Linked DNA regions of Homo sapiens. The protein of the gene in region 3 purifies or fractionates together with the protein of the main gene of each other region. This does not show direct contact. Each region holds a gene or a part of one and is shown on either strand. Other genes may lie near its edges. The genes, in order: SAAL1, TBC1D9B, ALDH3A2 and INTS1.

What was found.
Region 1: the proteins of ALDH3A2 (region 3) and SAAL1 purify together in Homo sapiens (affinity purification with mass spectrometry; 3 studies listed by BioGRID and IntAct, with this or other methods). This does not show direct contact.
Region 2: the proteins of ALDH3A2 (region 3) and TBC1D9B purify together in Homo sapiens (affinity purification with mass spectrometry; 3 studies listed by BioGRID and IntAct, with this or other methods). This does not show direct contact.
Region 4: the proteins of ALDH3A2 (region 3) and INTS1 purify together in Homo sapiens (affinity purification with mass spectrometry; 3 studies listed by BioGRID and IntAct, with this or other methods). This does not show direct contact.

What each region holds. Positions count from the first base shown.
Region 1 is NC_000011.10:18,095,512-18,103,459, forward strand, and holds part of SAAL1 (protein SAAL1), read right to left. Parts: intron 7,836-7,948; coding exon 7,722-7,835; intron 1,344-7,721; coding exon 1,260-1,343; intron 1-1,259. UniProt on the Homo sapiens protein: Plays a role in promoting the proliferation of synovial fibroblasts in response to pro-inflammatory stimuli.
Region 2 is NC_000005.10:179,904,374-179,912,947, forward strand, and holds the start of TBC1D9B (TBC1 domain family member 9B), read right to left. Parts: upstream 3,525-8,574; 5' UTR 3,449-3,524; coding exon 3,331-3,448; intron 440-3,330; coding exon 329-439; intron 1-328. UniProt on the Homo sapiens protein: May act as a GTPase-activating protein for Rab family protein(s).
Region 3 is NC_000017.11:19,665,574-19,673,521, reverse strand, and holds part of ALDH3A2 (aldehyde dehydrogenase family 3 member A2), read right to left. Parts: intron 1,802-7,948; coding exon 1,566-1,801; intron 372-1,565; coding exon of another isoform or gene 288-371; exon of another isoform or gene 247-287; intron 1-246.
Region 4 is NC_000007.14:1,468,836-1,473,396, reverse strand, and holds the end of INTS1 (integrator complex subunit 1), read left to right. Parts: intron 1-212; coding exon 213-325; intron 326-1,010; coding exon 1,011-1,124; coding exon of another isoform or gene 1,125-1,154; intron 1,155-1,755; coding exon 1,756-1,826; intron 1,827-2,172; coding exon 2,173-2,264; intron 2,265-2,441; coding exon 2,442-2,551; intron 2,552-2,704; coding exon 2,705-2,820; 3' UTR 2,821-3,120; downstream 3,121-4,561. UniProt on the Homo sapiens protein: Component of the integrator complex, a multiprotein complex that terminates RNA polymerase II (Pol II) transcription in the promoter-proximal region of genes.

The DNA.
Region 1 (7,948 bases), on a different chromosome or scaffold from region 3:
AGTGGTTATACTGAAGTCAGGCCTAGGCTGAAATCTCAGCTCCATTCTTTCCTAGCTGTGTGACCCTGAACACATATCTTCACCCAAGATTTAGTTCTTTGAAAGTATACCTCATAGTAGTAAGACCAGGTATTCAGTAAACAGCAGTTTTTCATAATTATAATTATTGAACAGATATTTACTAATCCATGATATGCATAGCACATGGCAATTTAATTGGCAATAAAGCACAGTACACTGCACAGTATATAAAGGCCTCTCCTTTAGTCTTTATCTATTGTTCTTGGCAGTTTACTAACAGCAATGACTACTGAAAGCTTACTTACTTACTTGGGAAGGTGTGGAAGGAAAAGTACCACTGTGAATTAACAGATGCAAATACTGAGAGGGGACAGAAGGCACACAAAGGGAGGCACGGAGACAGCATGAGACAGGGAGTAGAAAGGTCTGGCTAAATCAGAAGGGTTACCTGGCTATCCAGATTTTATGCTGGAAAGATGAGTTAGGTTCAGAGAGTAGAGGTCTTAAGCAGCAGGCTGAGTTTAGAATGGTTTTCAAGCAATGGTGGATTTTGTCAGTAAAAAAGAGAAATCAACTGAAAAATGGGAGGCCCAGGCTCTGTTCCTTGTTCTGATACATACTAGCAGCATAACAGTGGTTATGCCTAACTCGTCTCCACAGCTGGTAAATGAAAGTGCTAATTTCCCTGGTCCGGCCTGAATCTAAAATTCTATGATTTTCATAATTTTAAATTATTAAATTATTAATAATTTAATATTTTAAATTATTACAGGCATTTAGCTCACGCTTATAATCCCAGCACTTTGGGAGGCCAAGGTGGGAGGATCACTTGAGGCCAGGAGTTCAAGACCAGCCTGGGCAACATAAGGAGACCTTTGTCTCCACAAAATAAAAATAAAAATTAGCTGGGTGTGGTGGCTTACACCTATACTCCCAGTTACTTGGGAGGCTGAGGTGGGAGGGTCCCTTGAGCCCAGGAGGTCAAGACTGCAGTGAGCCGTGATCACGCCACTGCACTCCAAGCCCTGGAGACATAGTGAGACCCTGTCTCAAAAATAAAATAAAATAAATTTAAATAGCAAATTACCTAGGACCTGGCAATGTTCAATTAACATCTACAGGCTGATTTGTTGATTTATGGTCAGTAAGAAAATCAAAGTGAGAAAAATAAAAGACTATCCAGCACTATCTGTTCTTATTGCTTCAAAGAAGAAGGCTTTAGAAATGTACATACTTACTCTTAATCGAGGACACTTGGACTTGGCCAGTACTCCCATGAATATATCAGGAGCATTAAATTCTTGGAGAAATAAAGCCACGTCCTGAAAAGAAAAATGATTATTAACTTGGATGTTGAATATTCCTCCCTAAACCCTAAAGCTCAGGCAACCATAAAATTCTATATTAAAATTAGAATTTTACGCCAGGCGCAGTGGCTGACACCTGTAATCCTAGCACATTGGGAGGCCAAGGCTGGCAGATTGCCTGAGCTCAGGAGTTCAAGACCAGCTGGGCAACACGGTGAAACCCTGTCTCTACTAAAAATACAAAAAAATTAGCCGGGCATGGCGGCATGCACCTGTAGTCCCAGCTACTCAGGAGGCTGAGGCAGGCGAATCGCTAGAACCCGGGAGGCAGAGGTTGCAGTGAGCTGAGATCACGCCACTGCACTCCAGCCTGGGTGACAGAGCGAGACTCTGTCTCCAAAAAAAATAAAAAAATAAAATAAAATTAGAATTTTAGACACAAGAAAAAAAAAACACAGGCTTAGGAACTGTGTCAACAGACAAAAGTGATGTTAGAGAGTCTTTATGGTAACTAGTCCCAGACAATGGAACAATTTCATAAACAAATCTAAACTACCTACAATACTCCAGAGGATTATCCCACTCTTTTCTGCCCGAATCTATTTACCTTAATAATTTTTCTGCCCACTAGGAATTCTCATTAAACACATTCAAACACATTTGGTGATTACCTATCAGGTATTAAACTAGAAGCGGGGGACAAGGGAAAAAAGCAACACGCTGGGCGCAGTGGTTCACACCTGTAATCCTAACACTTTGGGAGGCTGGTTAGAAGGCCGAGGTGGGTGGATTACTTGAGCCCAGCTTGGGCAAACATAGTGAAAACCCATATCCACAAAAAATACGAAAATTAGCCAGGTGTGGTGGCACATGCCTGCAGTCCCAGCTACTTGGGAGGTTGAGGTGGGAGGATCACTTGAGCCTGGGGAGCTCAAGGTTGCAGTGAGCCATGACTTTGCCACTGTACTCCAGCCTGGGCAACACAGCGAGAAAAAAAGGAAAAAAAAAAAAAAGGTAAAACTTGGCTGGGCGAGGTGGCTCACGCCTGTAATCCTAACACTTTGGGAGGCCAGGACAGGCGGATCACTTGAGCCCAGGAGTTCGAGACCAGCCTAGGCAAACATAGTGAAACGCCATCTCTACAAACAATACAAAAATTAGCTGGGCATGGTGGTGTACCATCTGTAGTCCCACCTACTCAGGAGGCTGAGGTGGAAGGATTGCTTGAACCCGTGAGGCAGAGGGTGCAGTGAGCTGAGATCTCGCCACTGCACTCTAGCCTGGGCGACAGAGTGAGACTTTGTCTCAAACAAAAACAAAATTCCTTCTTGTCCTCCAAGAGCTTAAAACACGGTAGGGGAAAGAAGTCAAGAACTGCTATTGGGTCCTGTCCAAAACCAGAATTTGTGTTTTCAAAATCATCAATAGAATAAAAATTCTGATCACAATGTAACTGTGGCAGCCTCATAACTTCTTCCTACAGAGTCTGCCACAGTGCCTAAAGGGGCGTAACACACAGGTGACATGTGAGTGGACATGTGGCCCCAAATGAGCCAAATCTCACCTAGGAATGTAAGACACAAAAGCTAAGTCAGTTTGCTTGGGGACCTGCAATGTAAAATATATAAATAAAATTAAGTCTCTGGCTGTCCACTGCTTCAGATTTTCACTAAATGTGAGGTGTGTATTTGAGAAGCCTTAACTTAAAATATAAGCTGCATGGCTTATGTGAAAATTAAGGGCCCTGGAACATCTCAAAGAGACAGGCAATTATTCTCCACAGCAAGTGAAACCAGTAACCTGCCAGACAACTGACTGAGAGAGACACACTCTACTTACTAAAGGACCATGGTCAGAGAAAATAGTATTTTCAAAGATACACTCTAAACTGAAAGTCATAATGGCAGATTCTCTTCACTGTAAGTGATCAAGCTGTCCTGTGGGCAATTCTTTGCCACATGCAGAAATTTTTAAATTTAATGGTAATTCCTGGAGTAGCACAAGGGTGGCCTAACAATATCAACACCAACAGTAATAAAATTAACATTCATTGAACAAGTATTAAATGCCAGGCACAGTGAAGTGGCTTGCATGCTATCTCATTTAATTCTCAAAACAACTCTATCAACTAGTTATCATTGTTAGCCCCATTACACTCATAAGCAAACTGAAGTTTAAAAAGTGTAGCAACCTGCCCAAGATTATACAGTCTCAGCAGAGCAAAGCTAGGATTTGAACCCATGAGTCTGATTTGAGCCTATGGTCTTGTTTTTTAAAAGAGATGGGGGTCTTGCTATCCTGTCCATACTGGAGCAGTGGCTATTCACAGATTCACAGGCATTATCATAGCTCACTGCAGCCTCCAACTACTGGGCTCAAGTGATCCTCCTGCCTCAGCCTCCCAAATAGCTGGGAATACAGGCAAGTACCCAGCGAGACTATGTTCTTAACCAGCACAACATGCTACCTCTCAGGTATTCATCTATTCATTCATTACTCCCCAAATATTTTCTGAAAAACCTAATAGGCACTGTTTTAGGTTCTGGGGATACATCAGTGAACAAGCTAAATAAGGGCTCAGTCCCATGGAATTTTCATTCTAAAGAAATGAACAAACAATAAATATAAAACAACTAAACTACACAATTTCTAAATGCTACAAAGAAAATAAGATATGTGCTAGAAACCAAGATAAAGCGGGCTACTTTAGACATGACATTGAAAAGAAGGCATTTCAGAAGGGGTGACATTATGCTTTGATGAGAAGGAATTTAAATCCATCAGAGGACACATGTAACAGAGTGAAGCAATTCTGTGGGAACACCAAAACAAGACAGGTTAATTCTGACTGGAGTGTCTGGGGTGGCATCACAGAGGAGGTGACATTGAAGCCGGGCCATAAACAATGAGAAGGATTTTGCCAGCTGGAAGCCATTCTAAGCAGAGCGGCATGAATAGTGCCCATGGACACGTGAAAGTGCAGGAAGTATCTGGAGGTCTCTGGTCCTCGCACACTGAATTCATGGTTACAGAACGATAGGCGACAAGACTGAGATATAAACTCACCAGACTTTGCGCCAGGGACCTCAATTGTCAGTGGAGAGCTCAGTTCTGAGTGGTGCCTCAAGGGCACCTCTTGTAAGGGAGCAAAAGGAGGCCAAAGAACATGACTTTGCCCTGCACCAATAACCTCCTTCAAACAGTAGCGCTGTTTTCTCAATTTTAAAACTGAGACTTTCACCCTAAGAGTTCATTTAAAACACAGGTTTTATTTCTTTTTAAAAAAATTTGTTTAACCATAATTTATCAATAATTGTAGAATAGAAAGTAGATCTGAACAATACTCTCAACCAACCTGATCTGACATTGAGAATAAGATATTCCACCCAGCAACAGCAGAACACACATGCTTTTTAAGTCAACATGGTAAATATTTCAGGTTTACTTAAAACCATATTCTGGGCTATAAAACAAATCTCAACACATTTAAAAGGATTCAGTGTTCACCAACCACAGCAAGAGAAAGATAACTGAAACATTCCCAAATATTTGAAACTTACCTATAAACCAAAGAAAAAGTAAAGAATATTAGAAAGTATTCTGAACTTCTGCGGGCATGGTGGCTCACGCCTGTAATCCCAGCACTTTGGGAGGCCGGGGCAGGGGGATCACTTGAGGCCAGGAGTTCAAGACCAGCCTGGCCAACATGGCAAAACCCCATCTCTACAAAAAATACAGAGCGAGACTCTGTCTCAAAAAAAATTGTAAACACAGCATATCAGAAATTGTGGAATACTGGTAAAGCATAAATATTTAGGGAAAATTCTATAGTGCTTGATGTCTATCTTTAAAAAGAAAAGATTTCAAACTATAAAGTATGTGGACAACTGATTTTTGACAAAGACACAAAAGCAATTAGTGGAGAAAGGATCGTCTTTTCAACAAATGAACTTGAACAATTAAATATCCATAAGCAAAAAAATAAACTTCATCCATCCTTGCACCATATACTATACAAAAATCAACTCAAAATGGATCACAGACTTATATGTAAAACCTAAAATTATAAAACTTTTAGAAGAAAATGTAAGAAAACAACACAATTAAAAAGCAGGCAGAAGATTCAAACAGGTACTTCACCAAAAAAGATACACAGAGTACAAATAAACACATGAAAAGATGCTCATCATTAGGAATTAAGGAAGTCCAAATTATAATCACAATGAGCTATCATTACATACTTATTAGCATGGCTAAAATTAAGAAGACTGACCATACTAAGTGTTGGTGAGGTTGAGGAGAAATTGGACCTGGAATTATGTCTCATACACTGCTTGTGGTTATGTAAAATGGTAAAAAACTGCTTAGGAAAACAAATTGAAAGTTTCTTAAAAAGTTAAGCATACACCTACCGTATGATCCAGCCATGCCACTTGATATATGGTCTGGCTCTGTGTCCCCTCCTAAATCTGACCTTGAATTGCAATCCCCATAATCCCCACGTATCAAGGGCAAGACTAGGTGGAGGTAAGTGAATCACGGGGGTGGTTTCCCCCATGCTGTTCTCATGATAATGAGTGAGTCTCATGAGATCTGATAGTTTTATAAGCGTCTGGCATTTCCCCTGCTCGCACTTCTCCTTCCTGCCACCGTGTGAATAAGGTGCCTGCTTCCCCTTCCCCTTCTGCCATGATTGTAAGTCTCCTGAGGCCTCCCCAGCCATACTGAACTGAGAGTCAATTAAACCTCTTTCCTTCATAAATTACCCAGTCTCAGGTATTTCCTTATAGCAGTATGAGAATGGACTAACACACCACTCTAGGTATTCACCCAAGGAAAAACAAAGTATATGTCCATACACACTTGTATACAAAAGTTCACAACAGCTTTATCTGTAATAAGCCTTAAACAACTCCAACATTCATCAACAGGTAAAAAATAAATTGTGGTATATACATATAATGGAATACCATTCAGCAATAAAAAAAAAAAAAAAAGCCACTGATATACACAACATGGATGAATCTCAAAATAATTATGCTGTATAAAAGAGCCAGACCAAAAAAAGCATATGAGCACATTCATATAAAACTCTAGAATACATACTAATCTGTAGTGACAGAAAGCAGATCAGTGGTTGCCTGGAGGGGATGGAGGAATGGAGAGGCAAGAGGAAGAGACTACCAAGGACCATAAAGAAACTTTCAGGGGTGATGGGTATGCGCTGTATCCTGATTACAGTGACAGCTTAATCTGCGTACACATCCGTCAAAGTTTATTGGCTGGGTGCGGTGACTCACTCCTATAATCCCAGCACTTTGGGAGGCCGAGGAGGATGGATCATTTGAGGTCAGCAGTTCAAGACCAGCCTCGCCAACAGGGTAAAACCCTGTCTCCACTAAAAATATAAAAATTCGCAGGGATTGGTGGCTCACACCTGTACTCCCAGCTACTCTGGACGCTATGGCAGGAGAATCACTTGAGCCCTCGAGGCGGAGATTGCAGTGAGCTGAGATCGCACCACTGTACTCCAGCCTAGGTGATAGAGACTCCATCTCAAAAAAAAAAAAAAAATCAATGTCAATGATACTTCAAAACAATATGCAGTTTTTTGGTGTTAATTATACCTCAATAAAGTTTTAAATAAAATGACTGAAACAATGAATAGCCATTGACAATTTTTAAGAAAATGAGTACAATTAAGTCTGTATTTCCGGAAAAAAAGGTAACACGGGTGGCAATGTAGAGGACAGAAGGGAGGTGAAAGAGACTAAAACAAGGATTTTAATCAGGAAGCTATTGCTAAAGTCCAGGTAATAAAACAAGAAAGATTACATAGGTCATTTAATGTCTTTTGGCCTCTATTTTCTTAACTGTAAAATAAGGGTACTACCTACATCACAGGGTTATTGTGAAGATCAAATAGAATACTATATATGAAAATGCTTTTGAGCTATAGAATAAAATACAGATATTAAAACACTATGATTAATACTGCAATTACAGACATATAATTATTTATTGTCCTTTCCTTCTAATATTATCATGGTATATCAGTGGTCTTCTAACTCCTAACCTGCTGTCAAATATATGGCCAGAGCTCTCTTTAGGTAGGTAAGTATCAGAACTTTCCCGGCCTACATGTGTATAGGAATACATTCATAAGAGCTACGTATTTAGTCCGAATCTGTTGAGAGCTCAAATCCTCCAGCCTCAAAGACAGAAGTTTAGCATTTATAGCCCCTGGGATCTCATTCCCTATATCATATATGGGTGTGATTACAGACAGGAGATAAAGCCTTTCCCCAGAGTGAAGGACTGAACCGTTTTTAAAACATTCATTCACCATCTCCTCACCCAACAGTCTTCAGAGTTTTGTTTCCAGCCTCATACCTCATCCATTGACATATCCCATACTCTGCAAATTTCATTCTCCATTTCTTCATCAAGCTCCGTCAGCTGCTCCTCATCATCTGAGCTAGATTTGGTGTTTTCAGGGCTAACAATCTTCAGAAACACAAAGAAAGAAAACATGAATAAAAGTTGTCTACAATACTAACCAGGTACCCAAATACAGCAGGTGATCAAATAACATTTCCTCGTAACGCTGATGAGAAAAA
Region 2 (8,574 bases), on a different chromosome or scaffold from region 3:
GCCACCACCCCCAGCTAATTTTTTGTGTTTTTTAGTAGAGACGTGGTTTCACCGTGTTAGCCAGGATGGTCTCGATCTCCTGACCTCGTGATCAGCCCGCCTCGGCCTCCCAAAGTGCTGGGATTACAGACGTGAGCCACCGCACCGGGCCACGGAGCTGCCTTTCTAAGATGGAAGCGAAGGCTCCTCCACTTCCCTCTTGCAGCCTTGGGCTATGCTGTCAGCAGGGAATACCACCCAGACACGTGGGCTACACACCCCTTCCTCTCGGCAACGGCCCTTCCAGGGCAGGCCCTGCCCAGCACCCCTCACCACTCAGGGCACCTACCACACGCCACTGTCCAGTAGACCTGGGAGTCCTGGGTCTGGTGCAGGATGCGGTAAGGGGCCACGCGGGCACTGGAGTCCAGCACCACGTCCAGGGTGCCCACGAGAAGACCTGGGAACAGGGCAGAGAGACATAGAGGGTGAGGGGAGGGCCGGACTGAGGCCCCTGAAGGCTGAGTCTGGCCGGAGGCAGACAGGATGGTGACGCTACCCAAAGGGTCCAGCCCAACGAGGGAAACGTCCGGAATGACCCCTGCGGTCAAAGGCCTTCAGCCAGTGTCTGATCCCGATCAAAAACATCCCCTTCTACTTCTTCCTGGAAGCATCTGCTTCTTCTCCTGGCTCAGAAACACTTGCAGGCAGAGGCAGATACAAGTTTCATGGGGCCAGAGCTTAAACAATTCTGGGAAGCCCTCTTTACGTATACAAAACTAGACTACAAAACAAGTATTGCTTTAGACCGAGAAAGTACAGAGCTACACGTTAAAGTTAAAAAAGAACAATATCAGAAATATCACAAAATCCAGAAAACCAACACAATGTTTTCCTAACTGCCATGTGCGTCTCCTGAAATACGTCTTCCGGACAGTTCTGGTCCTGTACTCATCGCTTCTTCACACACAGGACAATGATTCTGCAACATTATTTTCCATATCAAGAACAGAAAGATAATGTCTCCCCTTTGCCATGACTCACTGATTTTTTATTACCGACAGTTTAAGGAAGTTTCTTTTAGCCTCAAAAAATCATAACTGAAGAAGTCGATCTTTAGAATTGTCAAATTTGGGAAAATATAAAGTTTTTTCATTTCTGAACTGAAACATTTGAGGGCATTTCAAGTTTTTCTTCTCATCACATATACCCCTTTGATAGATGACACACATTAAGCAGTCTGTGGCAACGCTATCTTTGCTTTTATATTTTAGGTAATGCTATCTTTGTCAGTGTCACTATTTCCTGACAAATCAGCAGGAAATATATAGCTTTTATCATTGTTTGATTCACTAATTGAATTATCGAGCAATCTAAAAACCTGTTTATTGTTTTTACTTGAAATTTTTTCTTCCTTTTAACGAAGTGCTGCTTTTGGCATGATCTGAAAATATTTTGTTACCATTTTTCCTGTTGATGTCAGAACAATTTTTATTGCTGTTATTCAACTTTAACACTTTTGTTTCATAGTCCATTAATACTTTTTTGAGATAGTCTCGCTCTGTCGCCCAAGGTGGAGTGCAATGGCGCCATCTCGGCTCACTGCAACCTTGACCTCCTGGGTTCAAGCGATTCTCGTGCCTCAGCCTCCCGAGTAGCTGGGATAACAGGCGCGTGCCACCATGCCTGGATAAATTTTATATTTTTAGTAGAGACGGGGTTTTGCCATGTTGGCCAAGCTAGCTATTCAGATTCTTTAATGAAAAGTCTAGGTTGGCATGTTTTTAATAGATGGCTTGGATAAAACCACATCCCTGTCTGCTCCTCTTCAGGGAGGACAGTACTCAGGAGGCCACGATGCCCATGATGGCACAGGGAAGGCCCTGTCAGAGGGCACAGCAGGACACACCAAACCTAGCAGTGGGGAGAGATTGGGAGAGGGTTCAAAGAAGGGTTCCCTTGGGGGGACCCTGGGAGCTCGGTCCCAGGGGACACGGAGAGTGAGGTGGAAAGGAGAAGAGCCCGCAGGAAGGAGGTGTACAGAGACCGGGCTGCACCTGCACCCGCCCGTTCAATGAGACGACCCACATAAGCCTGCCGAGCACAGCACAAGTGTTTCAAGTACACCAGCGAATATGACACACTGGCGCGCTGATGACACCCTGGCGCGCTGGCGGAAGAAAAGGTGCCGGTCCCTCGCTTTCTTCATCGGGCTTGCAGTAGCTTCGAGGTTAGCCACAGGGGCTGCCGACTGAACAGCTGGATCTAGGAGGCGGGTCCAGAACAGGAGCCCGAGATCCTTGAAGCCCACTGGGAGGGAACCCGAAGCTGAAGGGAACACTGAGTGTTTCTGGGAACAGAACAGTCTCTTCCACATGAAGAAACGTGGCCCAGGAGAAGCCTCCGTCTGCATCTGGCTATTAGCTGCTCACACTGAAAATCAGGATGATTCACAGAAAATGCTCTTGATAAACTGGACGACCTGGCAACACTGGGACCGCAATCCTGTAGGGCAACAGTCGGTGCCCCGAAGAGCACAGGCACTGAGCCCGAGCCAGCCGGGCTCCTGCAGTGCTGGGCGCAGGCCCTGGAGCATGAGGGGCCCCGGACACCACCTGCGGAGGGAGTGGCCTGTGGGCCTCCCCTGGATCCCACAGGCCGCACGACTCCAAGGGTGCCTGTCCAGCTTCATCCTGTGTGATGGTGGCACCCGGGCCCACAAAGGGCCACCTTGGCGAGCTTGCAGGAACACCCTGTGCCGCTACCCACAGCCTTGGGTGCGCAGCTCTGAGAGCAGCCAGGAGCAGGAAAGGTGGGGGAGGAGAAGCTGGGGGAATGGGGGTGCGGCCAGCTCCAGGGACCTCTGATCTTGCTAAAAGGGCGATACTTTGGTGAGATGGGCACGAAGAAGAGGGCAAAAGAAAACGTGCGCTGGCGTCACCTGGCCCCTTAGAGGCACCTGGGGAAACTGAGGTGGAGGATGAGGACAGGGCGGTCTCGCCAACTTTCGGCGGTGAGATCCCGGGAAGCTGCACGGCCCCCGGGGCTCGCGGGCGCCGAATCCGGGCAGAAGCCGCCGCCGGTCTCCACTTGGCCGCCCCAAGCCGACCTGAGGAGAGCCCGCCGAGGGCGCATTCGCCTCCCGCCAGCCCCTCGCCTCCCCGCCCCGGCCCCTCCGCGCCCGGCTCCCGGGTCCTGGCCTCGCGCCCCCGCCCCGCCGCGCGCTGGCGTGCGTGTCCGCCGCGACGCGCCGAGGCCGGGCCGGAACCGGACCCGCCCGCCGCCCGCCGCCAGCCCCGCCGCCAGCCCAGCCGCGGCGCCCACAGGCCCGGCCGCCCGCGCGCCTCTCACCCGTAAGGCCGCCGCCCCTGCCGTGGCCCCGGCGTCGCTGCAGCACGAAGAAGGGGTTGGCCCGCTCCGTCACCCACAGCGCATTGGCCACCAGCACCTCCTCCGGGCTCAGCCACATCGCGGAGCCGCTCGCACCGGGCCGAGGCCCGCGAGACGGAAGCGCCCGCCGCCGTCGGCGTCCCGGAGCGGAGCGTGCGGAGCGGAGCGTGCGGAGCGGGCCGGGGCGGGGCGGGGCCGGGCGGGCGGCGCCCCCTGGCGGGCGTGTGGCGCTCCCGCACGCGGCCCGAGTTCCGCGCCGCCCCCTCAGCCCCGGCCTCGGGCGCGCGCCAGCCTGGCCTCCTGGAGCGGTGCAGCCCACGGCCTCCGGCCTGGGTCCAGAACGGAACGGCCCAGTCCGCAGACAGGGGAGCCGCTGTGCAGAGCAGGGCTTCTGGCGTTTTGAAAGCTGTGCAGTGTGAGAGAAGGATGTCAAGAAGCAGAGTTTGGCGGCTTTTGGCTGGTTGCGCGTGCAACCCGGGGCGTGTTAGCACTGCAAAGGGCGCCTGGAAAGGGTTTGCAGTTCCTCCTAATTCTCAGCTTTCTTTTCTTTTTTTTTTTTCGACAGAGTCTTGCTGTGTCGCCCAGGCTGGAGTGCAGTGGCGCAATCTCAGCTCACTGCAACCTCTGCCTCCCGGGTTCAAGTGATTCTCCTGCCCCAGCCTCTTTAGCTGGGATTACAGGCTCCCGCCAACACGCCCGGCTAATTTTTTTGTATTTTTAGTAGAGACGGGGTTTCACCATGTTGGCCAGGCTGGTCTCGAACTCCTGACCTCGGGTGATCCGCCTACATTGGCCTCCCAAGTCCTGGGATTACAGGAGTGAACCATCGCGCCCGGCCAGTTCTCAGAATTCTGACACTGGGGCCGGGAGACTAGAAGAATCTTCCAGCGCAGGGCAGGTGCCAGGAGGCCCTGATACGGGCTGCATCCTTGGAAATCAGTGCTGCCCCTCCCCTGACAGACGGGTCACAGAGGCTGGCCGGCCCTGGGGATGGGGTCTGGACTGGCCCTGGGCCCAGTGGCGGCTTCTGCGCAAGTGTGAGGCTGGCTGCAGGCGAATGCGGGTCCCTGGTCTCCCAGTGTTGGCCTGCAGGGGCAGCGCCAGTCCACACACAGCCTTCTGCATGAGGGGGCTGTCAACTCCACCTGGGACAACGGGCCTGGGGCCTGTCCGGGGTCGACTGGGATGTGGGGTCACCCTGCTGGCTGGAACCCTCACCAGGGTCTGGCTAGAGGGCAAAGGGAAGGGGGCAGTTAAACCATCCTTGGAGCTGGACCTGACTTCCAGGTGGGTTTCTGTGATTGGCACTCAAGAATCTTGGTGCGATGGATGTAGGTACATGCAGTTGACACCCAGAGTGATCTGCAGTCTTCTTCAATGTTGCTGGATATAGGAATCAGCTTTCAAGATGCAGAGGCGGGCTTTCTTCAACACCTTGGAAGTCTGAACTAATATTGTCATTGTGCTCTCTAGAGGGAAAGAATTTGGAAGAACTGCACTTTTTAACACCCTGAGAGGAGGTAAAGAGTCGTCTTGTTCCTTAATCCCAGTGGTTCTCAAATTGGGTATACATTAGGATCACCTGGAAGGCTGATTCAAACAGGCTGCTGTAGTCCCAGCCACTTGGGAGGCTGAGGTGGTAGGATCACTTGAGGCCAGGAGTTCAAAATCGGCCAGGGCAATATAGCAAGACTCCATCTGAAAACAAAACAAAACAAAAAACAGCCACACAGGTTGCTGCCCCCTCCCTCCCAGGGTGTTTGCACTGCTAACTCGTTCCTAGGTGATGTTGATGCTGCTGACCTGGAGACCACTCCTCGAGAATGGTTTTTTATAAGAAGAAAAAGAACAAACATTTATCGATCACTTAGTATGTGCGTGCTAAGCTTACTTCTTTTTGATTTTCTGAGATATAAGTCACATTCCGTAACGTTCACTCTTTTAAAGTGCAAAACGTAGTGGTTTTTAGTATATTCACTAGGCTGGGCATCCATCATCACTAATTCCAGAACATTTTTATCAAGTCAAAAGAAACCCCTTACCCATTAGCTGCCATTCCCCACTTCCCCCCGGCTTTGCCCTGGCAACCATCAATCTATTTTGTCTCTATACATTTTTCCCATTCTAGCCATTTCTTCATATAAATGGAACCTTACAATATGTGGTCTTTTGTGTCTGTCTTCTTTCACTTCCCATCATGTGTTCGAGGTTCACCCACGTTGTAGCACGTATTGATGCTTCATTCCTCCTTATGGCTGAATAGTACCCCACGGTATGGATGCACCGCATTTTATTCATTTGGATGGACATTTGGATTGTTTACCCCTCGTCTATTATAAATAATGCTGCCATGAACATGTGTACAAGTCTTTGTGTGAATATGTGTTTTTAATTCTCTTGGGCATATATTGAGGAGTGGTATTGTTGGGTCATGTGGTACAGCTATGTTTAACTTTTTAAGCAGTGACCACACTGCGCTCCAAAGCAGCTGTAGCATTCCACATGCCCACCAGCTGGGTGTAAGAGTTCTAGGCAGGGCGCGGCGGCTCACGCCTGTAACCCCAGCACTTTGGGAGGCCGAGGTGGGCAGATCACAAGGTTAGGAGATCAAGACCATCCTGGCTAACACGGTGAAACCCCGTCTCTACTAAAAATACAAAAATTAGCCGGACGTGGTGGCATATGCTTGTCCCAGCTACTCGGGAGGCTGAGGCAGGAGAATTGCTTGAACCCGGGAGGTGGAGGTTGCAGTGAGCCGAGATCACGCCACTGCAACTTCAGCCTGGGCAGCAGAGTGAGACTCCGTCTCAAAAAAAAAAAAAAAAAAAAGAGTTCTAGTTTTTCCATATCTTGTCAACACTTGTTATTGTCTTTCTTTTTTTTTGATGCTCATTTCTAGAGGGTGGGAAATGGTATCTCGCTGTGGTTTGGATTTCCATTTCCCTGATGACTGATGATGGGCTTTTGGGTTATTTGTATATTTTATCTGGAGAAATGTCTATTTGGAGAAATGTCCTTTGCCCATTTAAAAAATTTTTTTATTTTTTTATTTTTGAGACGGAGTCTCACTCTGTCGCCCAGGCTGGAGTGCAGTGGCATGATCCTGGCTCACTGCAGCCTCTGCCTCCCAAGTTCAAGCGATTCTCCTGCCTCAGCCTCCCAAGTAGCTGGGAGTACAGGTGCGTGCCACCATGCCTGGCTAATTTTAGTATTTTTAGTAGAGAGGAGGTTTCACCATGTTAGCCAGGATGGTCTCGAAATCCTGACCTCAAGTGATCTGCCCGCCTCGGCCTCCCAAAGTGCTGGGATTACAGGCGTGAGCCACTGCACCCGGCCTCTGGCTCCAGTGCTTTTCCACACGTGTCAGACACGTGCTGCCTTTGCCCCCAGCATTCACTTCTCCCGTCTGTGCAGTGTCGTTTGTTTTTCTGCAGTGGGAACCGTGCCTTAGAACGCTCAGCTCTTGTCTGTCAGGTGAAGACACATGGACTCCTGGGCTGTGAAGGTGGAGCCCATGCCAGCTGAGGCCATCGGTGCATTCTATCTGTGATCACAGGGGCTGGCTGGTGATGGCCATGTGCCTCCAACCAAGTCAGTTGGGCCAGGGAAATACCGTCCTGACCTGGGCCACCTCCTGGGGACTGGCTCTTGTGTTGATGGAGCTACTGCCACCCTGAGCCTGGGGATGGGGTTCCCAATGAGGAGCAAAGTTGGCATGTGTCTTGGTGTCAGCATTTGAGGGTGAAATCACACCAAGCCTGACATAGGCACCCCTGGGCATTTTGGCTTTTGGGAGCCATGACATTCCCCTTTTGTGTTAGCCAGTTTTGGCTGGGTTTTCTGTCATTTGTAACCAAGAGAGTCCTCAGTGATACACGTCACCACCAACAATACTCCATGTGGTCAAATCAGCTTTTTCAATAGGTTTTTATTGAAATGGTTATATTAGCAAATTCTGCACATACGGGTGTACACTGTTGGCATATAGGTATATACCATACAATTTCACTACTTGATTATACTTACACCAACCATGCAGACCAAGGAGCTGTGCTGCCCAGAACATTTCAAAGGGTTGATGAGATCTGATTGTCAAGAACCAGCTCACACTCTACTTGTAGGTGTTTGTGTTCCAGACAAGAAAACTCCCCCGACAGGGAGGCCCGAAACTGAGCTAATCGTCAGTTTTGCTTCTTGAATATTGACTGTTCTTTCTGGCACAAGCTATCCAATGAATTAAATTAAAATTTTAATTAAAATTCAAGTGCATAGTTTCCTTTTCATCCCTCAAGGTGGAAGATAAATCATTTGCCACATTTAGGTATATCCCAAGCCTCCCCACCCCCACATTACCTGTGCTATAGTTAGAAAAATAGTTTTGTACGCCATCTTCTGAGATGTTGTGCATAGTGAGCAGGAACCTAGAGTACGGTGGGCTCTTTCAATGACCCAAATATGAAAGGGGCAACTTTAATATTTTATGAGTATAAAAGCTACGGAGGGTCCAAAACAACTGTGACATATGTGGCCTAGGGCTTGCACCAGCTCCTCCTCCTGTACAGGAACAGGATGCTTCCATCAGGTGAGAATGTTCTCCATACCTCAAATCTCATTTCCTAGCTTGGAGCCTTTTCCTGTTTTTGTAATCACACGGGACAAGTTTTCTTTTTAGACAGAGTTATTGCCTCTCTGCAGCAGATCTGGTCCCAAGCCCCAGTCAGGAGATCCCCTCCTGCAGCTGGCTCAGCAAGCCAGGCCCAGGCTGTCTGGAGAACGCCTGGAGACAGCACCCTCTCTGCTTCTCTCCAGGATGGCATGTGTCATCTCAGGCTGGGCACTCAGCAGAGGTGCCAGGACCTGGACCTGGGCCACACCTACTGGCCCAGTCCACAGAGCACAGCCAGCAATCCGCAGCCTTTCTGCTGAAGGAGCGCTTACTCGCCTGAAGGAAGAGAAATGGCCAGGACGGTATATTCTACCTAACCACCTCACCCCACCGTTTCTTTACAAACATCTTGGTTCAGTACCTCCCAGTCATTGGAGAAGTCCTTTAATATCACATAGTGTAAATATACTTGCACTTAATTGGAGATAAAGGCTGTTCCAAAAGCAAATTTGAATTCACTCTGTGTTGGGTTGAATTTGTAAACCACAGCTCAGAACCAGTCTGTGACGCTCCGCAGATGTCGGTGGCTATAGAGAGAG
Region 3 (7,948 bases):
GTTCTCGAACTCCGGAACTCAGGCAATCCACCTGCCTTGGCCTCCCAAAGTGCTAGGATTACAGGCGTGAGCCACTGCGCCCGGCCCATTCTTTTTTCAATAACCCTTAAGCCTCCAACTGTAGCAAAAAAAAAACAAAAATAAAAACAAAAACAAAAACAAAAACAAAAACAAACCAAAAAACCCTTGAAAACATACCCCAACTTGGCCCACCTTACATATAGAAAGAAAACAAAAAGTTCCTACCTCACTCTTAACAGACAGGGCTGGGTTTTGAAATCTGGTGTTCATCTCTGCTTACTGGACCAACGCAGTCTGTGAACTACCAGAAAAATCAACAGGGCCTTTCTCCTCAGCACAGCTTGGTATTTCTGAGAAAACCCAAATGATTTCAAATGCAACTGGTATCTCCAATTCCACTAAGGCTGGGATACTGTAAGATGAGCCAAACCCCTTTCAAATTTTTGTTGTTGTTGTTGTTGAGATGGAGTCTCGCTCTATTGCCCAGGCTGGAGTGCAGTGGCATGATCTTGGCTCACTGCAACCTCCACCTCCCGGGTTCAAGTGATTCTCCTCCCTCAGCCTCCCGAGTAGCTGGGACTACAGGTGCGTGCCACCATGCCTGGCTAATTTTTGTATTTTTAGTAGAGACAGGGTTTCACCATATTGGTCAGGCTGGTCTTGAACTCCTGACCTCGTGATTCCCCTGCCTCAGCCTCCCGAAGTGCTAGGATTACAGGTGTGAGCCACTGCGCCGGCCCCCTTTCAAATTTTAAACAAAACATAAACACAACTATTACCATTGCCTTTTCCAAGCCCATTCTTCACTGATATGGTCAATATTTTCAATGTTATATCCTCAGTTGAACGGCTGAGGGCACCACAGACACAATTGCCTTCCTCATTCCATCTTAACTTTAATTACGGATTTCCTCTTTCATCTCAAAATACGCAAACTGCTTTGAGAAGGCAGCTATCATGAGGGCCTCTTTGCAAGCCCATCCCTATAATGACTAATCACCAAAGATAAACTTTATCAGGTAGTGAACTTTGGAGGAAAAAAACTCAAGCCTAATAAAATATCCCTCACCAAAGCTGTTGTACCAGAGTTCTTGCCTTCACCTCTGTGGTAAGCTGATTTCATGCACATTCAAGAACAAAGCTGTAAGTGACAAGGAAAGTCCAATACCAAAAGGATCAAAGGGCTAACCCTTTGATCAGACAGCTCAGAATTCTGCAATCAAGTTCTACGCTGTTTTAATCTCTTAGACCAGAGATCAGCAAACTTTTCTGTAATAATTTAGGCTCTGAGGGCCATTCAGCCTCTGTTGCAACTACTCAGCTCTGTCACTGTCCCATGAAAGCAGCTGTGGATGATTAAACAAGTGGGTGTGGCTGTGTTCCAATAACTTCAGTGACAAAAACGGGTAGCTGGCCAGCAGGCTGTGGTTCACTGACCCTGTCTTAGACTCTACAAGTTAATGTAGAGTCCTGCTAGAATATGCATCTGGCAGCCATCAGGCCAGGACCAGACTGAATGGCACTCATGGGTTATAGGGACTCACCTTGACAAGCACAGCGGCTACAATACCCAGGAAAGTGAGCAACAGGAGACCGAGTTTTTCTTTGTTGAACCGTTTCAAGAGAAAAAATTTTCCCCAATCCACCTTTGACTGGCTGTTGGGAGGATATCTGAGTTTGTTAGCACCTTCTCTCTTTAAACTTTTTAATAAACAGGGACGCTGATGAGAAAAAGTATCAAAACTATGTTTTCCGTGATAAGCTCCCATCCCACTGGAACCTGAAATAAAGGGAACAGACAAAACAAGCTTCACTGTAGATGATGCAAGCTACTTCTGTCTAACAACGACCGGGAAAGCTCACATGCACTCCCTGCTGCCTGGGAACCCCACTGAACATCTCTGCCAGCTGAAGTATCTCTTTTCAGGAAGTCCTTACCAACTTCCCTGGAAAAGTCAATTTCCCTGTCAAACAGGATGCTTTCCATGAGCAAGACAAGGACTTGCACCTCTTCTAGAGCTGTGGCTCTCATTTATGCCAGGGACTGTGCTAAGAGTTAAATCATTCTCTTAAGATAATTCTCACCACAATCCCACTTGGTGAATTATCAGCAGCCTCATTTCCAGAGAGGGAAAGGGAGCTTACAGGGTCAGTTAACCTGCCCAGGGTCACACGGCTGCTAAGTGGCAAAGCCAGAACCCGAACCTGGATCAGACTCTAAATGCTATATGTGCTCTCTTCCCACCATCCCATGTGGCTTCATTCATCCATGGCCCCACACACCCACTTGCTTTCTCAAAGCCTGTGGAAAGTAAGACAGGGCAACAAGGTTGCACAGCTGGATGATAATAAGCAAGTGTAAATCTCTGCCCTCCACAAAGCCATGCTCTGTGACAGTTTCATTTCTCTAATTCATTGTGTGTACAACAGACTGACAGGCACAAAGCGGAGCAGTGTGAGCTGGGCAGAGGGAATGGCATGTGTGATATAAGACACAGGTGACCAGAGGCCAGGGAGCAGTTTACCAAGGCCAGGCTGCAGGAAGGAATCATTCATGAAGCAGGCCTGGTGTGAGAAGAGACCCAAGGACAAGACCATGAGAAACCCTAACTCTGAGGGAGGGTAAAGAATGAGGGAGGGGGCCGGGTGCGGTGGCTCACGCCTGTAATCCCAGCACTTTGGGAGGCCAAGGCGGGTGGATCACAAGGTCAAGAGATCAAGACCATCCTGGCCAACATCGTTAAATCCCGTCTCTACTAAAAATACAAAAATTAGTTGGACGTGGTGGCGCACGCCTGTAGTCCCAGCTACCTGGGAGGCTGAGGTAGGAGAATTGCTTGAACCTGGGAGGCGGAGGTTGCAGTGAGCTGAGATCGCGCCACTGCACTCCAGCCTGGGCGACAGAGCGAGACTCCGTCTCAAAAAAAAAAAAAAAAAGAATAAGGGAGGGGCGAGCCAAAGACATAACCAAGGTAGTAAGAAACTGGGAAAAATTTGGGAGGCTGATGCAGGAGGATTGCTTGAGCCCAGGAGTTCAAAGTTGCAGTGAGCTATGATTGTGCCACACTGCATTCCAGCCTGGTCAACAGAGTGAGACCCTGTCTCAAAAAATAAATAAAAAGCAAAAAACTGACATGAAGGAAATTACAAAGTTTTGTTGAAAGATATAAAAGGGCTATATAAATGAAGAGATGATATAACATATTCCCATTAAGACTCCACATTTTAAAGATATAAATTCTTCCCAAAATAATTTAAGTTTAAATCAATTTTAATAAAAATCCTAGGGGATTTCGGAAGGTTTTGTTTGTTTGTTTTAAGTAGGAGGAGGTAGTGATTCCAAAGATCATCTGGAAAAATAAATTTAGATAAGAACAAGCAAGAAAACATCGAAAAACAGTAATAATGAGGAGCTTTTACTTTTAGGTATTGAAATAGTACTGTGTCCTAAAGAGCAAACTACTGGATTGGTTGAATATGTGGGTTTTGGAGCCAGACAACTTTGGCTCATTTCTTGGCTTTACTACTTATTAGTTGTCTGTCTCTAAAATGCGTGCATTTGACCGGGCACGGTGGCTCACACCTGTAATCCCAGCACGTTGGGAGGCTGAGGTGGGAGGATTGCTTGAGCCCAGGAATTCAAGACCAGCCTGGGCAACACAGTGAGACCCCGCCTCTATACAAAAAAAATTTTTTTAATTAGCCAGGCATGGTGGTGCACCCTTGTAATCCCAGCTATTCAGGAGGCTGAGGCGGGAAGATTGTTTGAGCCTAAGAGGTTGAGGCTGCAATGAGCCGTGATTGCACCACTGTACTCTGGCTTGGGTGACAGAGTGAGACCCTATCTCAAACAAGAAAAAAAAGAAAAGAAAAGGCGTGGATTCAACCGCAGTACCTGGCATACAATAAGCACTTACTAAATGTCACTTATAAAGCTAACTGTACAACTACTGTAATTGAAACTGTGGTACTGGCCCACGGAAAAAACAAACCAGAAAGATAATGCAACCAATGAGAAAACCCTAAGAATGACCCAAACGTGTTTTTATTGAGTACTGATGGTATAAGGATGATTATTTCAAAAAATGGTGCCAGCATAGTTTACTCTTTGGGAAAAAAAAGGTAAATTATTACATCATGCAGCGTATGGCATTCTAAAGTGAACTCCAGGGTGTTTTTTTTGTTTGTTTGTTTTTTTGAGATGGAGTCTCGCTCTGTTGCCCAGGCTGGAGTGCAGTGGCATGATCTTGGCTCACTGCAGCCTCCGCCTCCCAGGTTCAAGCGATTCTTCTGCCTCAGCCTCCCAAGTAGCTGGGACTACATGTGCATGCCACAATGCCCAGCTAATTTTTTTTTTTGTATTTTTTGTGGAGATGAGTTTTCACCATGTTGGCCAGGCTGGTCTCAAGATTCTGACCTCGGGTGATCTACCTGCCTCGGCCTCCCAAAGTGCTGGGATTATAGGTGTGAGCCACCATGCTTGGCCAACTCCATGGTTAAATGGAAAGAAAAGAAAAGAAAAAAGAAAAGAAAAGAAGAAAAGGAGGGAGGGAGGGAAGGAAACTACAGATAATATTTAATTATTTATTTATTTTATTCTTATTTTTTTGAGACAGAGTCTCGCTCTGTTGCCCAAGCTGGAGGTACAGTGGTGCACTCTCTGCTCACTGCAACCTCCGCCTCCAGGGTTCAAGTGATTCTACTGCCTCAGCCTCCTAAGTAGCTGGGATTACAGGTGGTGCCGCCACACCCAGCTAATTTTTTGTATTTTTAGTAGAGACGGGGTTTCACCATGTTAGCCAGGTGCCTTGGCCTCCCCAAGTGCTGGGATTACAGGTGTGTGCAACCGCACCCAGCCTACAGATGATATTTATATAATAATGAAATAGGGAAAGCTTTTCTAAGCCTACTTTCCAAATCGGAAACCAAAAAACAAAAAGCCACACAGGCTTAGGCCAGATGTGGTGGCTCATGCCTGTAATCCCAGCACTTTGGGAGGCTAAGGCAGGTGGATCACCTGAGATCAGGAGTTGAGGACCAGCCTGGCCAACATGGTGAGACCCCATCTCTACTAAAACTACAAAAATTAGGTAGGAGTGGTGTCGGGTGCCTGTAATCCCAGCTACTTGGGAGGTTGGGGCAGGAGAATTGCTTGAAGCCAGGAGTCAGAGGTTGCAATGAACCGAGGTCGCGCCATTGCACTCCACCCTGGGTGACAGAGTGAGACTCTGTCTCTAAATAAATAAACGCTTCAAATCATAGATAAAATTAAAAGAAAAATTAAAATCTGGAAAGGGATATGTATTACAGATAGGACTGAGGATTTTCTTACTTATAAAAAAGGCTATTTATATACCAATAATAAGGAAGATGTGAACACAGCAAAAATATCAAAGGACATAAATAGAAAATTCATGAGAGTGGTAAAAAAAATTCAAACTCACTAATAATCAAAGGAGTACAAATTGAAATGAGACCCTTTTCTGTCTAGAAATTTAATAATGGAATAATCCAGAATTGGGGATATAAGGAAGTAAACACTCATATACTGATCATGGGAATATAAAGTGGCAGAAATCTGCAAAGACACTTGAAATATCTATCAAAAGTCTTAAAGAGAAGCATTTCTAAAGAAAAACCTAGGCTGGGTGCGATGGCTCACACCTGTAATCCCAGCACTTTGGGAGGCCAAGGCAAGTGGATCTCTTGAGCCCAGGAGTTTGAGACCAGGCTGGCTAACATGGCAAAACCGTGTCTCTACTAAAAATACAAAAATTAGCTGGGCCTGGTGGCACACACCTGTAGTTCCAGCTACTTGGGAGGCTGAGCCAGGAGAATTGCTAGAACCCAGGAGTTGGAGGTTGCAATGAGCTGAGATCACACCACTGCACTCCAGCTTAGGTGACAGGGAGTCTCAGTCTCGATAAAAAGAAAAAAAAAAGAAAAATCTAAACTATATGCCAAAATATTAAAAAGTTTAACTGTTTAGACTTTTTGCCACTGTGTCTATATTACTTTGAGAATTAGAAGAAAAAAGCATTTTTTTCAATTTGGAAAATTGTATAAGCCCTTTTAACAGAGTAATTACACTTGTAGACATTTTTCCTAAAGAAATAATCAGAGATTGCATAAAGATACATTATATAAGAATCGTAATACCAAAAAAATTGAAATCACAAAAATCTAATACTGGGAATTGGTTACATAAATATGCCACATTCATATGATGGAAAAGTATGCAGCTACTAAAATTATGACATGCAAGAATATTGACATGGAAAAGTGTCACACTATTCTGTCACATACAGGGTACAGAACAATATATAGTATGATACCTTTTTGAATAGAATATTCAGATGACCGTGTATATGTGTGTGCATATGTGTGCAAGACATATACCAGTTATCTTTACATAGTGGGGTTATGGGTAATATAAATGTTTATTCTTTGGGCTCTTCTATCTTTTCCAAGTTTTCTTAAAAAGCCTGTATTCTTTTTACATTTGGGGGTCAAGGCTTGTTTTTATTTTTTATTTTTATTTTTTTACAGCATGGCCACTATAATAATGTATTATATGCCTGAAATTTGCTAAGAGAGTAAACCTGTTTTTTTCTTTTGCATCTTCTTTTTGTATTTTTAATTTTTGTGGGTATATAATAGGTTGCTTGTTTTATTTTATTATTTTTATTTATTTATTTATTTATTTATTTATTTATTTATTTTGAGATCGGAGTCTCGCTCTGTTTGCCAGGTTTGAGTGCAGTGGCGCAATCTCAGCTCACTGCAACCTCCACCTCCCTGGTTCAAGCAATTCTCCTGCCTCAGCCTCCCTGGTAGCTGGGACTACAGGCACGCACCACCACACCCAGCTAACATTTGTATTTTTAGTAGAGATGGGGTTTCACCATGTTGGCCAGGCTGGTCTGGAACTCCTGACCTCAAGTGATCCACCCACCTCGGCCTCCCAAAGTGCTGGGATTACAGGCATGAGCCACTGCGCCCAGCCTTGTTTTGTTTTAAATAAGATGGTATAGTCAATGATGCCACAGGCTATCTTGTCAAGTAGGACAGGGACTGAACCCAAGTCACTTAGATTTGCAATTAGAGGGCAGTGGAGACACCATATGGAACAATTACCGAGTTGATTACTGCACTAGCACAGTGGATGCCAGGATCCTATGTGGTGAGCTGAGGAACAGAGACAACAGAGTCCAATCTTTTAAGCATTTGGGCTACAAAACTATTACTTACTCCAGCCAAAATCCCAGGAGTCATCCTCTCTCATTCACCCCCTCCTCCAACATTCACTCCATCAGCCAATCCTGCTGCTTGATCCCAAAAATACCCCCTTCCCTTTCCACTATCTCCCCTGCTACCACCCTCTACAAGCCACCACCATTTCCAATTTGGATCTGGCAATACCTACCAATTGGCCTCTTCCCGCCTGTCCCTCACTCATGTCAGTCACTGTGCTGGGTGCTGGCAATATGTTTACCTCCTAGACAAGGACCTGTGGCTATATAGGTCAAGGCTCCTTGGTCATAGGACAAGGTTTCCTTAACCAGGAACAGATGGTCCTGCCAAACTGGGCCATCGCATCCCATGGAGCAACTGACTTAGGACGGTATTACAAAGGGAGAGGATAGAACAGGGCTTTAAGACAGTGGCTTTTCTGGTTGGGTTTTTGTTATGAGAATGTTTACATATCGGCTATTTTGTAATAGCTCTAGTAGAGAGTAGAAAAGCCCACCTAGCCTAGGTCCCAAAGGAGAAATAAAAAGCTGAGTCAGTCATCTCACATGTGGGAGAGGCAGGCAGGTCATGTTCTAAAGGGAAAAGCAAGGATCAGGCTATGTCCACAAAGCTTCACTTGGAATGAATTTCTTTCTGCCCATCCTCTCTAGAACAGGGGGAGTCCCGTTTTACT
Region 4 (4,561 bases), on a different chromosome or scaffold from region 3:
GCCGAAGCCGTCTGAACCCACCCCTGCAGCTCTCTGGCTCTCTGTCCCGTTCCACGCACATGTGGCTTCCCCGCCCGGCCCTCCCTCTGAGCGTCCTGGCCTCTCCTGCATGCCTGTGTCCACACGCTCCCATGCCACCCTAGTTTGACCCCTGACCCAGCCTTCCTCCTGCCAGCGTCTTCCTCCCAGGTGAAAGCATCTTCTCTCCCCAGCGACCTGTCCTTCGACAACAGTGACCTGGTGATGCTGAAATCCCTCCTTGCAGGGCTCAGCCTGCCCAGCAGGGACGACAGGACCGACCGAGGCCTGGACGAAGAGGGCGAGGGTGAGTGGGGCTGCCAGGGGCTGCTGGAAGCAGCTGCGGAACAGTCCTACAGGGCCTGGTTTTCCCAGCGCACAGCCAGCCCTGGGCCGTCCGAGGCGTCCCGATGGGGGCTGTGTGAGCCTGGGACCTTGCTGGCTGGCCCCTGACCCACCTCAAGGGGACGAAGCACTGACTGGTGCCTGACAGAGCATCAGCACACCTGCCCCCCGGCACATCGCCCCGCCCCGGCAAATGGCCCTCCCCACCCCCCCGTCCCTGGCACATCCACCATCCACCAGTGCTTGTCCGAGGTGTCCCTCCCCAGGAAGCCTCCCCTGGTCCTACTGGGCAAGGCTTGTCCTTGGTTTTTCCCTGCCTGAGGTGACACGGCACCGCAGCACGTCTCTCCTGTGCCGCCGGAAGAGCGCCAGGCCCGGGTCCCAAGGGGCCATCCCGTCTTGTGCCCAGTGGGTCCTGGCCCACATTGCGAGAAACCCAGCAGGGAGAGACTCGCAGAGGTGCATGCGCCGGATCCAAAGGCAGCTCCCGGCTCCTGGCTCCACCCCATTTGTGGAGCGCTGCTGTGTGCAGGCACCTTGGGAGCCTGGGCAGTGGCCGCCGTGCTCTCGGGAGGGCAGGTCCTGGTGCCTCAGTGTGGCACGTCCTGCCGCTCCCGCCCTCCTGCAGCACTGCCACTGTCTTCCAGAGGAGAGCTCAGCCGGCTCCTTGCCCCTGGTCAGCGTCTCCCTGTTCACCCCTCTGACCGCGGCCGAGATGGCCCCCTACATGAAACGGCTTTCCCGGGGCCAAACGGTGGAGGGTGAGTCAGGCCCTGCTTCACCCACGCCAGGTCAGCGCCCTGGGTCCCATGGGGCTGCGGGCAGCAGCCAGTAGCCATTTGGGCACTGACTTTGGCGTGAGCCTGGCCCACGCTGGGCTGTGGGTGGGTGGGCTGTTCCTCACAGTGGGGAGCACCCCCAGAGAGGGCCTTAGAAACTCAGGGGCCCAGGGGAGCTGGAGGTGGCTGCTCTGCTTCAGGCACAGCAAAAAGCAGGGGAGCCCCCTAAGGTGGTGGGGGTACAGCAGGAAGAGGTCAGGCGGGTGGGCAAGACCAGCGGGTGGGCAGTACCGGTGGCCGCTGTCAGAGGACAGCCAAGGCTGAGCGGCCCGGATGGAGTCGGGCCGTGGGGACACTTGGTGCTAAGAGCACCCTGGATATGGGGCTGCCGTGAGGGGTCAACCCCTCTCCTTGGAGGCCACTAGTAGGGGCAGGGCCGGGTATTTGTGGAGCTTGGGGGCAGGTGACTGCCTGGGGCGTCACTGGGCTCATGCTTTCCAGTGCTTTCTGTCCTGTGGTGCTCGGGGCCTTGCCCCCTCTGGGTGGCTGGGGTGGGGTGGGCAGAGGTCTGCCTGGGCCCTTCAGTTCTGGTCTGGCCCTCTCTCTGTGTCAGATCTGCTGGAGGTTCTGAGTGACATAGACGAGATGTCCCGGCGGAGACCCGAGATCCTGAGCTTCTTCTCGGTGAGCTGGATGGGGCTGAGGGAGAGCTGGGAGGAGCCACTCCCTTGGGGAACCCCAGCAGGGCCACCACCCCAACATGGCGTGCCCGCGCTGAGCCCCAGGGAGTCCTCTGAGGCTGGGCTTCGGGTGGGGGCCCCAGCCCAGGTGTTCACAGTCAAGCCGCCGCCAGAGCAGGCCTGCCTTCAGCCCCGGGCTGGGACCGGCCAGTGGCACGTGCGTCCTGCCTTCTGGATAGGGGCCTAGGGTCCCTGCCGTTGCCGCCAACCATCACGAGACCAAGAGGTGAAGGGGCCTTGATGGGGGCTGGACCCCTTGGTCACACACCTCCCACCTTTCCCCCGGTCAGACCAACCTGCAGCGGCTGATGAGCTCGGCCGAGGAGTGTTGCCGCAACCTCGCCTTCAGCCTGGCCCTGCGCTCCATGCAGAACAGCCCCAGGTGAGGCCACCGCCGGCCTCTGTCCCGCCGCCACCGCTGGGCCCTGCTAACCCAGGTCACCGCTTGACCCGCCTGGTGGCCAGACCAGGCTTCCAGGCGGCTCAGCTCGCCCTGTCGGGTGGGGGTCTGGCGTGGGCACAGGGTGGAGGTTCCCACTGAAGTGTGTGGGTCTTTCAGCATTGCAGCCGCTTTCCTGCCCACGTTCATGTACTGCCTGGGCAGCCAGGACTTTGAGGTGGTGCAGACGGCCCTCCGGAACCTGCCTGAGTACGCTCTCCTGTGCCAAGGTGAGGACTGGCCCCCCGCCCAGGGCCCTGGCAGCCCTCGGGGAGGCCGGAGGTGCGTCCCCCGAGGGCTGGCTCTTGGGAGTCCCGAGGTCTGGTCACTGCGGCCAGGATGTTGTGGCCAGCGTGACGTGCAGGGCCCCGTTTCCCCCACAGAGCACGCGGCTGTGCTGCTCCACCGGGCCTTCCTGGTGGGCATGTACGGCCAGATGGACCCCAGCGCGCAGATCTCCGAGGCCCTGAGGATCCTGCATATGGAGGCCGTGATGTGAGCCTGTGGCAGCCGACCCCCCTCCAAGCCCCGGCCCGTCCCGTCCCCGGGGATCCTCGAGGCAAAGCCCAGGAAGCGTGGGCGTTGCTGGTCTGTCCGAGGAGGTGAGGGCGCCGAGCCCTGAGGCCAGGCAGGCCCAGGAGCAATACTCCGAGCCCTGGGGTGGCTCCGGGCCGGCCGCTGGCATCAGGGGCCGTCCAGCAAGCCCTCATTCACCTTCTGGGCCACAGCCCTGCCGCGGAGCGGCGGATCCCCCCGGGCATGGCCTGGGCTGGTTTTGAATGAAACGACCTGAACTGTCTGTGTGCTCTCTGGTGTCCCATGTCGCCCTCTGGCCAGTGAGAGCCTCAAGGACCCTGGCCTTGGCTTCCCAGCCCCACAGTGCAGGGAGTTGAGCAGGGTCCGGGGTGGTGGAGACCAGGGCCAGGCTGGGCTCTCCCTTGGGCCAGCAGTTCCCGCAGGTGTTGAGGGTCGGGGGATGCTGCCCACTTGGCCGCCCCCGCCCCACGTCATGGTCTCCCTGTCGAGTGCCGGCCCTGGGCCCTGCCGGGCCTCAAGTCCTCTGCCCACGGGGTCGGCCTCTGTTGAGTGAGTCCGGCCTTGTCAGGCTGCGTGGGGGACTGGCCCAGCTGACTGGTCTCTCTCTCCTGCACTAAAAGGATCAACAAGGCCCTGAGAGCCTCAACTGTGGGCGTCCCTCTGTGGGAGCTGAGTTGGGGTCCCATTCCAGAAGAGTCCGAGTAGCCGGTGGTGCTGCTCGTCCTGCCTTTGCAGGCACCAGCTCCCAGGGGAGGGTCTGGGAGGGTCCTAGTGCATGCGGGGCGGAGCTTGGCATGGGGCCCTGTTTGCTGGCCCGCAGTGCACTCTCCTCCCTCCCAGCCAGGTTGGGGTTAGAGCCGCCCACCCCTCTGTCCTCGCTGCACCGGGGTCTTTCCAGCACACAGATGGGACCCGTGCTCTCCCGGTTCCCCATGAGTGCTCCCAGGTCAGCCAGGCCCCGGCTGCCCTCCACCCCAGCCGCTGTGGCTAAGAAGCTGACCCAGGCCCTCCTGCAAGCCCAGGTGGCGCGAGGCCTCAAGGTTCTAGTGATGCTGTGGCCTTGGGGGATGCCCCGCAACAGCACCCAGCAAGGGGGCAGCTGGGCTCCAGGCCCACAGCCTCCCAGCCCAGCCCCTGGCCTGCACACCTGCACCACCTGCCCGGGCCCCTGGGCACTCCTGCACCCGCCTGCCCACCCTCGGATTCTTCCAGGCTGCACAGGGCCGGGGACCAGGTCCCGGGTGGGGTGAGCCAGTGCCGGGTCTGTCACCAGGCGTGCCTGTCCACAGCTGGCTCCTGTGGCTCCGGGGGACTGGGAGGCTGCTCTGGGAGTGACTTGGAGGCCCATGGGCCGCTGAGCCGCCTCCATCCCAGCTGTGCGCGGCCGCCCTCCCCCACCCTTGCCCTTAGTGCGTTGCCTTCAGGCCCTTGGTGCGGGCACCTCTGCCCTGGGTCTGAATGTGTGTTAGGGTTAGGGACAGGGACAGCAGTGAGGAGGCCTAACAGGCCGGGGTGTGGGGTGAGGCCCTTCCTGCTCTGTGGTTGGCTCTCCTACCTCTGCGCGGATAAGGGGCAGGGCCGAGATTTGAGCCCTGGGGCCCTGGAGCCATGGGCTGCCCCAGGGTGGGGCTGGGCTGAGTGGAAGCAGGGCCCAAGGTTTGTGCAGTGGGAAAGGGCCCTGGAGGCTCAGCAGATGCAGGGCA